2 separate regions of the Homo sapiens genome follow, and region 2 is linked to region 1. Evidence: fine-mapped expression QTL. Tissue or cell type: sun-exposed skin. Region 1 holds a variant in brackets; the other region holds the start of a gene. All regions are shown on one strand. Distances are between the middles of the regions.

Region 1 (8,184 bases):
AGAGGAAAGGCAGGGAAAAGTCTTCAGATTCCCTTGAGGAAAGGTGCTTCGCCGTCGCAGGGAGCCCAAGCACATTTCTGCGCTGACCCACTAAAAAGTAATGTCGCACAGGAAGAAAAAGCCACTTCTAAAAGCAGCAACAGGGCCGGGCGCAGTGGCTCACGCCCGTAATCTCAACACTTTGGGAGGTCGAGTCGGGTGGATCACCTGAGGTCAGGAGGTTTTTTTGTTTGTTTGTTTGTTTGTTTTTTGTGACAGAGTCTTGCTCTGTCGCCCAGCCTGGAGTGCAGTGGCGTGATCTTGGCTCACTGCAACCTCCGTCTCGCAGGTTCAAGTGATTCTTCTGCCTCAGCCTCCCGAGTAGCTGGGACTACAGGGGCGCACCACCAAGCCAGGCTAATTTTTTTTTCTTTTTTAGTAGAGACGGGGTTTCACCATATTGGCCAGGCTGGTCTCGAACTCCTGACCTCAGGTGATCCGCCCACTTCAGCCTCCCAAAGTGCTGGGATTACAGGCGTGAGCCACCGCGCCCGGCCGAGGCCAGGAGTTTGAGAACAGCCTTGGAAACATGGTGGAACCTCGTCTCTACAGAAACATGCAAAATTATCCAGGCTTGGTGGTGCGCACCTGTAATCCCAGCTACTCCAGAGGCTGAGGCAGGAGAACTGCTTGAACCTGAGAGGTGGAGGTTGCAGTGACCCAAGATCATGTCATTGCACTCCAGCCTGGGCTACAGAGCGAGACTCCCATCTCAAAGAAAAAAAAAATAAAATCAGAAGCAGAAGCTGTAACAGAAACAGAAATCAGCACAGGGAATAGTGGAGTCTTGTGTGTGTCCGAGGGATGACACGATGCTCAGCGTCTGCTCAGACAGACGGTGGCTGTGAGAAGCCCTGATGGGAGAGCTGCCAGCCTGGACAGCCGGCTGTGAAGACTCCACGCCAACCAACGTCCCGCAGGCCGCACGGAGATGGGCAGGACCGAAACACACAAGGCTTGGCCTTTGATGAAAAGGAACTCCCCAAGCCAGAAGGAAGTGTGTGATGAAGCAATTCAGCTCAGAGAAGGATGTGCTTCTAGAAGAATCGCCGCATCAGCACTATGTTTAAACTCACATGCTAATCCAAACATGGACCGGCAAGAACGCAGGCGGAACAGGTCCACCGTGTCCTGGCCCACGCACAAGCGGGCCAGCTGTTCCACCAACGCAATCATTCAGCTGCGGCGACACCCGGAGGGGCTCCCCTGTGTAATGCCCCCCACCCTGGGAGAGCTGGGTTTCTTTTTGTTTTCTTTTTTCTTTTTCTTTTTTTTTTTTTTGAGACGGAGGCTCACTCTGTCGCCAGGCTGGAGTGCAGTGGGCGATCTCGGCTTACTGCAAGCTCCACCTCCCGGGTTCAGGCCATTCTCCTGCCTCAGCCTCCCGAGTAGCTGAAACTACAGGCGCCTGCAACCACGCCCGGCTACTTTTTTGTATTTTTAGTAGAGACGGGGTTTCACCGTGTTAGCCAGGACTATCTCGATCTCCTGACCTCGTGATCCACCCGCCTCGGCCTCCCAAAGTGCTGGGATTACAGGTGTGAGCCACCACGCCTGGCCGAGTTGGGTTTCTTTAAAAGATTTTAGTCAGGCTTCTGGCATTTTGCTATAATATTCTAGGTAGAATTATAGGGCAATTTGGTACAAATTAGATGTTTAAGGCTGGGCTCGGTGGCTCATGCCTGTAATCCCAGTACTTCGGGAGGCCGAGGTGGGTGGATCACGAAGTCAGGAATTCGAGACCAGTCTGACCAACGTGGTGAAACCCCGTCTCTACTAAAAGTACAAAAATTAGCCTTGCGTGGTGGTGGGCACCTGTAATCCCAGCTACTCAGGAGGCTGAGGCAGGAGAATCGCTTGAACTTGGGAGGCAGAGGTTGCAGTGAGCTGAGATCGCACCACTGCACTCCAGCCTGGGTGACAGAGTGAGACTGTCTCAAAAACAAACCAAACAAACAAAAACAAATGAGATGTTCAGCCTGTGAGTAGGCAACAAAAAAATAGAACACAGGTTTTAATTTTAAGAGAGGGGGTCTTGCTATGTGGTCCAGACTGGCCTTGCCTCAAATTGCTGGTCTCAAGCGATCCTCCTGCCTTGGCCTCCCAAGAAGCTGGGATTATAGGTGTGAGCCACCACGTCCAATTCTTTAGCGTGTTATAAAATGCTGATAGCAATGGGCTTTCAGTCAGATTTGGTGGGGGAATGTAATCAGTATGTTCACCTGAAGCTCAGGCAGGCACACACACACACACTCACAGACACACACACACACACACATGCACGCACACTGGCAGCACCAAAAACAGCTTCACCTAAAATGAAGTGTTAAGAGGAATCTATTTACATTATAACTAACTATAGAAAGAAACGATGTAGAGGTGAGGAATCAAGACAGTCTCTTCACATTCTGAACTTTAGAAAGATTTCATTTTTCTTTTTTCTTTTTTTTTTTTTTGAGACAGAGCTGTGCTCTGTCACCCAGGCTGGAGTGCAGTGGCATGATCTCTGTTCACTGCAAACTCTGCCTCCCGGGTTCAAGCGATTCTCCTGCCTCAGCCTCCTGAGTTGCTGGGATTACAGGCACATGCCACCATGCCCATGTATTTTTAGTAGAGACGGGGTTTCACCATGTTGGTCAAGCTGGTCTCAAACGCCTGACCTTGTGATCCACCCGCCTTGGCCTCCCAAAGTGCTGGGATTACAATAGGCATGAGCCACCGCGCCCGGCCTCATTTTTCTAAATTAGAGACTTTCCTAGCTGGTTATTAGGGAAGGGTAAGAACTGGTCACATCTCAAAACCCTGAGATTGGTTTTGTTTTGTTTTTGTGCTTCAGAAAAACCCACAGATTGAAAAGGTATGACATAGGTGAAGGGTTATGACCTGGGTCAGAACTAAAAGATACGTCAGAAAAACCCTATCTGCTTGGCCAATGATTATCATGATATATTTTCAGTAAGAAATAAGTCATAAAAAAGAGAATTCTATGTAAAGCAGGGAGGCGACCCAAACAGAAGTCCCACGGTTTCCCTGCACGTTCTTTTTACATCTCCAACACCACAGAGCTGAAGCCGAACGGTCCCGCCTCTCTCTTAAGTACGCTTGTAAAATAACGCATTTGGATTTCCTGCTTGCTGGCCATGGTGTCACATGTCCGTTTCTTTTTCTTTTTCTTTTTTGAGACAGTCTCACTCTGTTGCCCAGGTGAGAGTGCAGTGGCATGACTCAGCTCACTGCAACCTCCACCTCCCGGTTTCAAGCAACTGTCCTGCCTCAGCCTCCAGAGTAGCTGGGATTACAGGCACCCACCACCACGCCTGGTTACTTTTTGTATTTTTAGTAGAGACAGGTTTTGCCATGTTGGCCAGGCTGGCCTCGAACTCCTGACCTTAGATGATCCGCCCGCTTCTGCCTCCCAAAGGGTTGGGATTACAGGCATGAGCCACCTCATGTACATTTCAAACAAGTGACTCGGTCATTCCCTGCATGCAAAGGTCTGGTCTACAAAGATGTAGGGCAGGGGACACACGAAACAACAAGCCTGGCCCATCCCCACCCTTTGCCAATGTGGTTATGAAAACCACGAGCAGCGGGGCGAGGTGGCTCATGGCTATAATCTCAGCACTTTGGGAGGCCGAGGCGGGTGGATCACTTGAGGTCAGGAGTTCGAGACCAGCCTGGCCAACATGGTGAAACCCGGTCTCTACTAAAAATACAAAAATTAGCCGGACGTGGTGGTGCGTGCCTATAGTCCCAGCTACTTAGGAGGCTGAGGGAGAATTGCTTGAACCCAGGAGGTGCACGTTGCAGTGAGCCGAGATCGTGCCACTGCACTCCAGCCTGGGCGACAGAGCGAGACTCAGTCTCAAAAAAAAAAAACCACAAAAACCCCCAAACAAAAAACTAAACCAAAAAAACCAGACGAGCAACAGGGATGAGCATGTTTTCTGCCACCCCTTGTCCCGTTTCCTTGGCTAAGCTGTGGCCAAAGCACTCCCGGCCTTTTACACATGGAGCCCACTGCTGGTTGTGGAGGTAGGAAGACTCCCTCTCTCCCCTCTCCAAATGAAACCGTGCGTGGGAAGAATCACCCAGTTCTCTCTGTGGCAGGGAACGGCAGCCATGGAGCTCCTGGGTCCCCTGACAGGGGCAGGGCCTGCTGTTCCAGGGCGCCCACCACCTCCCAGACCAGCTCGCACCACCTGCCCGTTAAGCTTGGTGTTGAGAAAAGGCGGGGATGAAAGAGACCCACGTGTAACCTCCATGTGAATTACACTTTTTTTTTTTGAGACAGAGTCTTGCTCTGTCGCCTAGGCTGCAGTGCACTGATGCAATCTTGGCTCCTGGCAACCTCTGCCTCCCAGGTTCAAGCGATTCTCCTGCTTCAGCCTCCCAAGTAGCTGGGATTACAGACGTGCACCATCCCCCGCCCCACCCCCCCAGCTAAT[T/G]TTTGTATTTTTAGTAGAAATGTCGTTTCACCATGTTGGCCAGGCTGGTCTCGAATTCCTAACCTCAAGTGATCCGCCCACCTTGGCCTCCCAAAGTGCTGGGATTACAGGTGTGAGCCACCGTGCCTAGCCTCTGAATTACACTTCTTACCCGTATTGTCACCTCCCTCCCGCCTGGCTTATTCAAAAACCAGAACTGAATAAAAATCGTGTTTAATTGCAGAAGACACATTTATGTTGTAGCGTTTATTGGGTGCCCACCGCTGGCTGGGCACCGAGCTGGGCGTTTGCAGGACACGCAGTCACACAACACCTCACAACAGCCCTGTGAGGTAGGGATGAGTCCCATGGAACGGTCCAGAAAACGCAGGCTCCCAGGCGCCCTGCCTGCTCCCACAGCTAGGCAGGCGGTACAGCGGGGACTGAAGCAGTTCTTTTTGACTCCAGGTTCCATCCAGCTCTTGGTCCCATTGTTTTAGAGATTACAGAAGGTTTGGTCCCAGAGTCCACTGAGCCCATTCACAACGTTTACAGGTTTTGTTTCCTATCCCCCACGCTCATCGTCCTTTTTGAAGTTTGGAAAAATACAATTTAAAAATGAATATGAGTGTACAGTTTGGAGTTCGGAAAATTAGCACACGTTCTGTTTGGTTCAGGGTCCCTCTCCACCTGGGTCACTGGCGCAGCAGTAAGAGTTCTAACGGGCAACTCAGCGGCCTCCCTCTGTCCCCGTCACTCCTGAGCATGTCTGAGGCCGCCAGTGAGGCTGGGACTCATAGGTTCGAGCAGAGGAAGAGGAGCTGGTGGCAGTGAAATGGGCAACGGGAAAGTGGAGGCGGGTAACCCTCCACAATGGCTGCTCAGCAAACACAGAAATCCTCTTCATTCTTCTCGACCAAGAATCTGCAGTCCTCCTCCCTCCTCTAGGGCGCACAGCTTAGCCCTGACCCAGGCAAGCACAGGGCTTCCCGTGGTCTGCAGGGAACGCACCTAGCCAGCCCTGCCAGGGCCACCCAAGGGGGAGTGTGGGCCGAGGGTCACAGGACGTCCGAGGCCTCCTCTGCAACTGCCTCATCTTACAGTGCGGGAAGCCGAGGCTGAGCGAGGAAGACAATTCCCAGCATCTTCTATACTACCAATCCCAAAGAAAGACAAAAGAGACCTGGCAAAGGAAATTTGAGTCTCCAAATCACCACCACAGGCAGGCACCAGAACAAACGATACTTTAACGCAGAACTGGAAATGCAGCTCACTCTTTGGTGACAGGAAACCCTAGCTCAGGGTTCCGTATCTCTTGTGCACACTTTTTCCCCCCACACTCACTCTTGCCAAAAGTGGCTCCCAGGAGATGGAGTGCACGGTCAGGTTCTAGAGAGAGCCCTCTGGCCTTGCACCACAAGACGCAGGCGTGGGTCAAGGCTGCGTGCTGCCGCGGCCCTTCTCATCCCTGCTCAAGCATAGCCCACTCTGGCCTCGGCGGTCCCCACTGTCTCAGCCTGCGTGACCGGGATCCCATTTCATCAAAGGTCCAGGACAGACAAGCAGGTTTTGAAGGAAAAGTTCAATCAGCCCACTTGCACCTCTGCCTAATGCAGATGTTGTGTGTGCCGCACACCAGCGGCTGGGAGGAAGCCGGTGTAGGTGAGTCGGACTCCAGCGTCCCCTGCATTTAGTTTGCCGTAAAGCCAACCCAGGAACACTGGGGCATTTCACCGCAGCCGCTCAGCTGAGGGGACAACTCCCCTCCAGCTCTTCGCCCAGCGTGACCATGACAACCATCTGGAAACAGGCGTCCCAGCCTTCCTCGGTTCAAAAACCCCAGCCTGCAAAGGCAGGGTAAATAGTTTTTGCCTTTTCCCTTCTATCCGTAACTTCCACCACTCCATAGATTCTAAAACCATCTCTCCTGCCATTAATGCCACTTAAATGCCCTCGACACTTTGGCTGCTGGGTGCCTTGGTTTGGAATGCAGAGTCTGAGGTACTTGAGGTTGTTTTAATTCTGTAAATATGAAAAGGGAAGGGAAGCGAGGCAAATACTGAAGCTTGCAACCACAATCTCTCATCGGTTTGCTGAGGAAATTTTCTAAGATGAAAATAGAAAGGCACATGACGCCCTGTGAAGGACGTGGCCCAGCCGCCTACTCTCTGTTGCTGTCTCCCGCTACGACCTCTCACACAGGTAGGAAGCCCCTGCGGACAGCGGGGCCAGCGAAAGGACAGCTCAGACGGCCACCACACTTGAGTTCTGTGCTTTCCTGGGCATGGGAGGAGCTACAAACTTTACTTAAAAAAAAAAAAAAATCACACAGTTTTTCAACAGGAAGAGTGAAGTAGAAGAACAGATCATTTAATTATACAAACAAAATCGCTTTCCTTTGCTCCAGCGAGTCCAGGCAACCTTTCAAGTTCATTTGCTGCCTGAAAGAAAGGTTTTTAGTATCAGAAAGAACCTCGCTGTCCTCCAATATCCACAGGGAAAACAAGATCAGAAACAAAAGTCCACCATGGAAGAAATCCCAGAGCGATCCAATTTGGAAAGAATTTAATTAACAAAATAAAACGGAGGGAAAATGGTCCAGGTGGGGCCCTAGGGAGATCGGACTTCTGTCCCAGCTGAAGTCTGCCCAGCACACCTGGTGGGCAGCCCCTGGGCCTGTCACTGCAGAACTGGCCTTGACAAGCAGACCCACTGTGCGCGACGCCACGGTTTCCTTACGCACTCGGCATTATGTACAGATATGAAAAAACCCAACGGCAGGTGGCTGGAAAGTGGCTTCTAGCTCCCCTATGCTGGCTTGGCACGTTCATGCATGCAAAGCGAGGAGGTTTTGCGGGCTTCACCAAACAGTTAATTTTGGCAAAAAGAGAAAACAAACAAACAAAAAGCTAAAATTCATAAGCAGGATTTAAAAGCCACTGAAGTGAAAATGATGTATTTCCTCAGCGTTATGGAGTTAGACTACCACTACAATCTTTTTTTTTTTTTAATAAAGTCTCTGCCATCCTCTCCCCCGACTCAGGTCAAAGTTCATAGCAGCAATGCACAAAGTCCTCTGTGAAGCCAGTGTTCTCTGCTCCCCGGGTCAGAGGTCACAGGTCAAGTTCAGTCAGTCCGAAGAATCATGGGCGGGTGCTCGCTGTCCTCATCCAGGCGCAGGGCGCTGGCCTCGTCCTCCAGGCAGGCGCCACCCACAGCACCCAGGTCGTCTGTGTAGGCTGCAAAGAGACGACGAAGTCACCCTTCAAAGGCTGGGGACACACCACAGACCCCATGACACACACTGAGGACTGTGTTTTGGAAACACTGGTGTATATTTATAAACTGAAGCCTGTACTAAGACGTTCTGAATTCTGATTGCTTTCTAATGAACTCTTTGCAGCCTTAGGCAGCTCGAGATGAAGTCATTTGTTCTCTGACATTCATAAATGTCAAAATGATGCCTGCACAGTAAACAGAGGCTCCCTCATGGACGGGCCACAAACTCTCTCAAGCTGGTTAAGAGCTCAAAAATAACACCAGGAAAAAAAATGACACTAGGAGACTCTCAGGGTGGGCTCATGAACTGGAAGTGCCGGTTCACAGATGGGAGTGGCAGCGAGCAGGCACAGCCCTGCGTGGGTGCAAAACCACAGGCTCTCCCACTGGAGTGCGAGTTGGCTTTTTTAAGAAGGTGGCTCACATAGCCAAGGCTGTG
Region 2 (8,172 bases), 45 kb after region 1:
ATGCCACTGCACTTCAAACTGTGCAACAGTGAGACTCCATCTCAAAAACAAAAACCCAAACCCTTGATTTACAGATGAACAAAGAGAGGAGAGCAGTACCTTCCCAGCACAATAAGCATAACCTAGAAGAGACATGGTGGAAGAAAACAACAGGTTTCTCCTGTTGTCTCCACACACTTCATAACATCAATTCTACAAACACAAGACTTGGAAAGTCAAGTCCCTTTCTTCATTCCATCCCTTTTAGACATGGCATTTAAAACAGACATTGCTACATCACTAACTTCCCACAAGCTGTGGTATCCACTGGAAAAATGTAGTCCTTGATATTTCCATTTCAGATTCAAGTGATCCTCTCCCACTTATTAACTGGTTCACTGCAATTTCAAAAAGCCAAAAAAGTCCTCTAACATAAGCCTTCCAAGGTGATACTTTCAGAAACCAGGGTTGGAACTAACCAGACAACAGCGCGACGGCCAAGACCAGCTGCTCTTGATGCCCCTTTCACTTCTCTAGGTAAAAAAACAAAACAAAACAAAAAACAAATGGTAAAAAACAAATAAAACTTATGCACACTTTTAGGATAGGAATCATGAAAAAGTACGACATTGGAAATCATATTACCAGTAAAGAAAGGCAGGACAGTTATAGTTTGGTATGTAACAAATACAAAAAGAATTTAAAAGACAAAAAAAAGGGAAATGACCCTATAACATATATATTCTAGTAAGTGAACTGGCTTCCAAATTTTCTCACTGCATACAGTAAATGTGAGTTCTAGACGGTCATTCTTTCACTTGCTAAAAATTGTGCTCCTCAATAAATTCTGGAGATTAAGAAGGGAGGAAAAGGTATAAGCCATAAAAGCTCTCTCCGGGAACTTCTCTATTTCTTTCAAGTGTAGATTTAAAACAAATTACCGTCATTTTAGCCCAGTCAACTTCTAGTATAATCCTAGCTTACTATTCATTCCAATTTAGGTTTACACTACATCAAGGTCTCTCTGGCAAGTCAAAGTTATGAAATCTCAAAGTAACAGAAATCTCTTGAACTGTAATAACTTCGGGGAGCATGGAGAAGTGGGTAAGTGTGAAAATGTCCAAGTGTGAAAAGGTCCTATTTCAGGCCAGAGTGACACTCTTCTGTGACACAGGGAACATGGCAGTCCAGCTGAAGTAACAGTAAAAGAGAATGCTTTTCTCTATTTGATTTCATTCTGATAGAAATAATTAGTGAAAAACTGAAAGAGTGGCCGACAATGTTTTGGAAACTCTCTAATTTATACAAGGCATAAACCACCCTACTACTACTACCATTTCTTACTGGTCTCAAAATACTGTGGCCTTGGGCTTAAAAACCAAATTAGAATTGGTTTGGGATGTGTCCTTTTCCCTATCTGGATTAACATAGTCTATTCCACTTGAACTGCAACAGGTTGTCCGAATTGTTTGTTGTTCTGGCTTTTGGTCACACAGAACGCTACAGTACTTGGGAGTTTTCATCTTTACACGTTGTTATGCTATTATTTCTAAATTCACTGTCTTCAGAATTCTACTCTGTAAACAGAAAAAAAAACAGCATGGCAGAGCAGAAAGAACATTGGAAGAGAGCTCAGGAGGCGAGATTCCACTCCTGCCCCCGCTCCACTATTAACCAATTCCAAAACCCAGACCAGCTTGGAGCCTTTCGGAAGGATTTCCTCATCTGTAGTTGGATGAGGTGATTTGCCCCTTCCGACTCTCAATACAGTCCCACTGTGCGACTGTCTTCACAGCTTTGGGGAGGTGCTATTGAGTGCCTGCTGTACACCACCCACTGAGTGTTGTCCATTCTACAATTCACTTTTAATTTCCTAAAGAATCTTACCTTCTGCTATGTTAATTCCACTCAGCCAGTAACAACTCAACCAATGACTTAGTAAGATGCCAAATGCCCCACTCCTTCTCTTTCCTCACTTCCTCTTACTCACTTCCAAGATGGCTCTCCTCCCTGCCAACCCCATAACTCACCCTTCTCTCTCCAGAAAGCTCGCTCATCTATTAACCATCCCCACAAGTCCTCCTCCCAGGCAGCATCCAACCCGTATCAGTGGGGACAAACAGCGTTCCGAATGCACGGGCTGGCATTAAGGCCTTCTCTTGCCCTGAGGATGACCCACCCGCTGGAGCTCTGAGACTCCTGGGGCACTGGTCCGTAACGCCTCTCTTGGCTCAGTTTCTCCCTAGCTAGGTCAGATGCCAAGGTTATTGCTAAGTTTGTTACTTGCTGGAGAAGACATCAAAGTTGATGTCCCAAAAAGAACAGGGAGGGCCGCGCACGGTGGCTCACACCTGTAATCCCAGCACTTTGGGAGGCTGAGGTGGGCGGATCACTTGAGGTCAGGAATTTGAGACCAGCCTGACCAACATGGTGAAACCCTGTCTCTACTACAAATACAAAAAAGTTAGCTGGGCACAGTGGCGCGTGCCTGTAGTCTCAGCTACTCGGGAGGCTGAGGCAGGAGAATCGCTTGAACCCAGGAGGCGGAGGTTGCAGTGAGCTGAGATGGCACCACTGCACTCCAGCCTGGGCAACAGAGCAAGACTCTGTCTCAAAACAAAACAAACCCCAAAAAACAAAAACAAACAAAAAAACAGTGAGAAACGAAGAAAAGAAAATCAAGAGAGAGAGAAGGGTCTTAAGACGATGAAAAGACAAGGAGAAGGGCCTGATTCAAAGGAGAGTGAGTGGGAGACGCTGAGCAAGCAGCGGGAAGAGGAGACGAGAGGAGAGGAAGCGACCCACACCCAGCGCTCCACAGGCGGCCAAGACAAGTCAAGCCCCAAAGTTCGGCCCCAACTTTGCGAGAAGTAGTTAAGTCTGAAGCCAGGGGGCCTCCCCGCAAGAGGGTGAAAGCAGCCCCCTCTCCACCACCTCTCCCGCTCCGGGACCGCAGCTCCAGGCCAGCACCCGAGGGTCTCCCTGGAGGGCGCCCCTCCCTGCACGCCCCGGGCCCGCCCCTGGGGACGCCTCTGCGCGCCTTGGCCCGCGGGGAGGCCGAGCCTGCGACGCCGCCGAGCTTGGCAGCGAGGCCCTCCCCCTAGCCCGGGTCCGACCCTGGCCTCACCCCGACTCCGACCCCCGACCCCGGCCTTACGTGTTGTCCTGGTTGAAGTTGGCGAAGAGCAGCTGGCCGGCGCCGGCCTCCCCGCTCTGGCTCGCCAGGTTCATGGCTGGGCGCGCGGCGAGTGGGCCCGGCCGGGGAGGGCGCGCGCGCGAGGGCGGGTCAGGCTGCACTCAGGGTCGGCGCCGGGCCCCGCTCGCCGCCTCGGTCGCCGCCACTCGCCACCCTGGGATCAACCGCCGCCTCATCCCGTCCCCGCTCTTGTTTATGCTCCAGAGCCGGGGCACCCGGTACGCCTGCGCGGCCCCGCCCCCGCGACGCACGGCCTCGAGCGGCGCAGTCGCACTGCGGAGGCCCCGCCCTCTCACCGCCTGCCTGGGCTTGGGTTCCGGTGGATCACGCAGGCGTGGGGACGCGTCGGGGCGCGCTGGGCCTGGCTGAGGGCGAGCGGCGGCCGCTCATGCGCATGGGGCAGAGCTGGCGGGAGTCTGTTTTCTGCGTACCCTCCTCTTAATAACACTCAATGGCCAGGCACGGTGGCCTGTAATCCCAGCATTTTGGGAGGCCAAGGCGGGCGGATCACCTAAGATCAGAAGTTCGAGACCAGCCTGGCCAACATGGTGAAACCCCGTCTCTACTAAAAATACAAGAAAAATTAGCCGGGCTTGGTGGTGTACGCCTGTAATCCCAGCTACTCGGGAGGCTGAGGCAAGATAATCGCTTGAACCCAGGAGGCGGAGATTGCAGTGAGCCGAGATCATGCCACTGCAATCCATCCAGCCTGGGCCATAGAGCGAGACTCTGTCTCAAACAACAACAAAAACAAAAACAAAAACACCCCAATGGGCCCTCCATGTGCCAATCACTGTGCTGAATGCTTCTGCGCATTACCTTATCATTTTATTATTTTGAAAGACAAGGTCTCGCTCTGTTGCCTAGGCTGGAGTGCAGAGGCTCAATCACAGCTCACTGCAGCCTCAAACTCAGGCTCAAGCGATCCTCCCACCTTAGCCTCCCAAGTAGCTGGGACCACAAATGCATGCCACCACACCCTGCTAACTTTTAAGTTTTTTGTAGAGATGGGGTGGGGGCGGGGGGGGTCTTACTCTGTTGCCTAGGCTGGTCTCGCACTCCTGGCCTCAAGTGATGCTCCCACCTCGGCCTCCCAAAGTACTGGGATTACAGATGTGAGCCACTGTGCCCAGCCACATTATCTTATTTGATGCCCATTACAATCCTAAGTAGAGAATAGTATATCTTAATTTTACAGATTTGAAAATCGAGGCTCAGAAATAATTATTAGCCAAGTGCTAGATCTGAGACTGGAAACGTCCTGTTTCTCCAAGGTCCATACTGTCTGGGTTCCTGGGACAGAATCGTCCCTTAAATTTATTCATTCATTCAACAGTATTTAGGACGCACCTCTCATGTGAACTAAATAGGCCTCCTCCTTTCCCTCAGAGAAGTTATAATGGGGAGATATTTAAATATAAATAGAAGGCCAGGTGTGGTGGCTCTTACCTGTAATCCCAGCACTTTGGGAGGCTGAGGCGGGTGGATCACCTGAGGTCGGGAGTTCCAGACCAGCCTGGCTAACATGGTGAAACCCCGTCTCTACTAAAAGTACAAAAGTTAGCTGGGTATGGTGGTGGGCACCTGTAATCTCAGCTACTAGGGAGGCTGAGGTGGGAGAATTGCTTGAGCCCCACAGGTGGAGGTTGCAGTGAGCCGAGATTGCACCTCTGCACTCCAGCCTGGACGGACGACAGAGTGAGACTCCATCTAAAAAGTAAAATAAAATAGGCTGGGCATGGTGACTCACGCCTGTAACCCCAGCACTTTGGGAGGCTGAGGCAGGTGGATCACCTGAGGTCATGAGTTTGAGACTAGCCTGCCCAACATGGTGAAACCCTGTCTCTAGGAAAAATGTAAAATATTAGCCAGTTGTGGTGGCACGGCCCTGTAATCCCAGCTACTCAGGAGACTGAGATGGGAGAATTGCTTGAACCCAGGAGGTGAAGGCTGCAGTGAGCCGAGATCATGCCACTGCACTCCAGCCTGGGCGACACAGTGAGACTCCATCTCAAAAAATAAAATAAATAAATATAATTAGAAACTCGGGGGTACAATGAGCGAATATATATATATATATATATATATATATATTTTTTTTTTTTTTTTTTTTTTTTTTGAGACGGAATTTCACCTTCTTGACCAGGCTGGAGTGCGATGGCGCAATCTCGGCTCACTGCAACGTCCACCTTCCGGGTTCAAGTGATTCTCCTGCCTCAGCCTCCCGAGTAGCTGGGATTACAGGTGTGCACCATCACGCCCAGTTAATTTTTGTATGTTTAGTGGAGACGGGATTTCTCCATGTTGGTCACGCTGGTCTCGAACTTCCGACCTCAGGTAATCTGCCTGCCTCGGCCTCCCAAAGTGCTGGGATTACAGGCATGAGCCACTGTGCCTGACCATGAATGCATATATAGAAGTCACACAACCTATATTTAAGGGACAGGGACTGTGCTATTGAGAAGGCTCCTGGAAGAGATGAGACCTGAAGTTTGAGTAACTAGTCTAAGGGCATGAAAACACTCTATATGGGAAGGGCTTGAGGATGAGGGTGTGACCTGTCCAAAGAACTCTATGTTCAGAGTGGAAAGGCAGACACAAGGCAAGATTTGGCAGGAGAGACAGGAGGTGGCCAGATCAAGCTGCGTATTGTTACGCAAGGAACTGACCATTATCTGATTATTGTCCATAAGAGCAATGGTCTGCCGTTAAAGACAGGCAGGAAAGTGGAACGATCTAATGAGTGCTTACAGAAGTTAATTCTAATTATAGGGTCAAGAACGCATTGGAAATCATTGAGGAAAGGATGGTCTTTTCAATAAAAGGAATAAGTACCCCTACCTCACACCATATTCAAAAATTAATTTGAGATGGATTACAGTCCTAGATGTGAGAGGTAAAAACAATAGAATTTCTAGAAGGAAACGAGAATGCCTTCATGATTTTGGGATAAACAAAGTAGTCTAAACAGGTACTTTAAAGCGGATGTGTTGGCTCATGCCTGTAATCCCAACACTTTGGGAGGCTGAGGCAGGCGGATTGCTTGAGTCCAGGAGTTTGAAACCAGACTAGGCAACATGGGGAAACCCGGTCTCTACAAAAATACAAAAATTAGCTGGGCGTGGTGGTGTGCGCCTGTGGTCCCAGCTCCTTCAGAGGCTAAGGCGGGAGGATGGCTTGAGCCTGGGAGTTCAAGCCTGCAGTGAGCTATGACCGCGCCACTACACTCCAGCCTGGGTGACAGAGCAAGATCCTGTCTCAAAACAAAACAAGTTCTTTAAAAAGTAGTAACCACAGGCCGGGCGCGGTGGCTCACGCCTGTAATCCAGCATGTTGGGAGGCCAAGACAGGCAGATCACGAGGTCAGGAGATCGAGACCATCCTGGCTGACATGGCGAAACCCCGTCTCTACTAAAAATACAAAAAATTAGCCGGGTGTGGTGGCTGGTGCCTGTGGTCCCAGCTACTCAAGAGGCTGAGGCAGGAGAATGGCGTGAACCCGGGAGGTGGAGGTTGCAGTGAGCTGAGATCGCACCACTGCACTCCAGCCTGGGTGACAGAGCGAGACTCTGTCTCAAAAGAAAAAAAGTAGTAACCACAAAATGAGAGATTGGCCTTCATCAACATTGAGAAGAATGGGCTATTTTCAAGAGACCATTAAGAGAGGAAGAAAAGGCAAGATTTAGAGATACATATATTTATTTTATATATATATATATATATATATATATATATATATATTTTTTTTTTTTTTTTTTTTTTTTTTTTTTTTGAGACGGAGTCTTGCTCTGTCACCAGGCTGGAGTGCAGTGGTGCGATCTCGGCTCACTGCAACCTCTGCTTCTAGGGTTCAAGCGATTCCCCTGCCTCAGCCTCCCAAGTAGCTGGGACTACAGGCGTGTGCCACCACACCAGGCTAATTTTTTGTGTTTTAGTAGAGATGAGGTTTCACTGTGTTGGCCAGGATGATCTCAATCTCCTGATCTCGTGATCTGCCCGCCTTGGCCTCCCAAAGTGCTGGGATTACAGGCATGAGCCACCACGCCCGGCCTGCAATATATATATTTTTGACAAAGGAATTATACCCAGAACTTCTGCGCATCAATAAGAAAAATATAGACAGCTTTTTTTTTTTTAACTGGGCAAAATACTTGAACACAAGCACTTCACAAAAGAGGATATCAGAATGTTAATGAGCACCTGAAAAGGTGGTCATCGTTAATACTCATTAAGAAAATGTAAATTAAGGCTGGGTGTGGTGGCTCACACCTGTAATCCCAGCACTTTGGGAGGCCAAGGTGGGAGGATCACCTGAGGTCAGGAGTTCGAGACCAGCCTGGCCAACACGGTGAAACCCTGTCTCTACTAAAAATACAAAAATGAGCTGGGCCTGGTGGTAGGCACCTATAGTCCTAGCTACTCGGGAGGCTGAGGCAGGAGAATCGCTTTAACCTGGGAGGCAGAGGTTGGAGTGAGCCGGGATCACACCACTGCACTCCAGCCTGGATGACAGAGCAAGACTCCATCTCAAAAAAACCAAACAAACAAACAAAAAAAGAAAATGCAAATTAAGGGCAAATGAGGTATTACTAAGCATCCACCAAATTGGCTAAAATTAAAGCAACTGACAATCCCAAGTGTGGATGACCATAGAGCGCAATTGGAACTCTCATACACTGTGGATGGAGTCTCGCTCTGTTGCCCAGGCTGGAGTGCAGTGGCACGATCTCGGCTCACTGCAAGATGAAAGTCTAAATTGTTTCAACCACTTTGGAAAACTTGGGCACTACCTACTAAAGTTTTGTTTTTGTTTTTTGTTTTTTTGTTTTTTAAATGGAGTTTTGCTCTTGTCGCCCAGGCTGGAGTGCAGTGGCACAATCTTGGCTCACTGTAACCTCAGCCTCCACCTCTTAGGTTCCAGCGATTCTCCTGTCTCAGCCACCCAAGTAGCTGGCATTACAGGCACCCACCACCACGCCCGGCTAATTTTGGTATTT

What was found. PIP is the estimated chance that this variant, and not a neighbour inherited with it, causes the effect.
Region 2: WIPI2 starts here. The variant in region 1 is fine-mapped to the expression of WIPI2 in sun-exposed skin (GTEx, PIP 0.97).

What each region holds. Positions count from the first base shown.
Region 1 is chr7:5,230,356-5,238,539 of GRCh38, reverse strand. WIPI2 (WD repeat domain, phosphoinositide interacting 2) reads right to left here. Exons shown (of 13, transcript NM_015610.4): 13 at 4,700-7,705. The coding sequence ends at 7,593. Among named protein-coding and RNA genes, the nearest start is that of WIPI2, 44 kb to the right of the region's middle. RefSeq lists a silencer at 3,808-3,867 and an enhancer at 6,434-6,583. The variant T/G (reference allele first, on the strand shown) is at 4,488.
Region 2 is chr7:5,185,458-5,193,629 of GRCh38, reverse strand. WIPI2 (WD repeat domain, phosphoinositide interacting 2) reads right to left here and starts at 3,397. Exons shown (of 13, transcript NM_015610.4): 1 at 3,137-3,397; 2 at 459-512. The coding sequence starts at 3,210. RefSeq lists silencers at 2,903-2,952, 2,963-3,612, 6,286-6,415.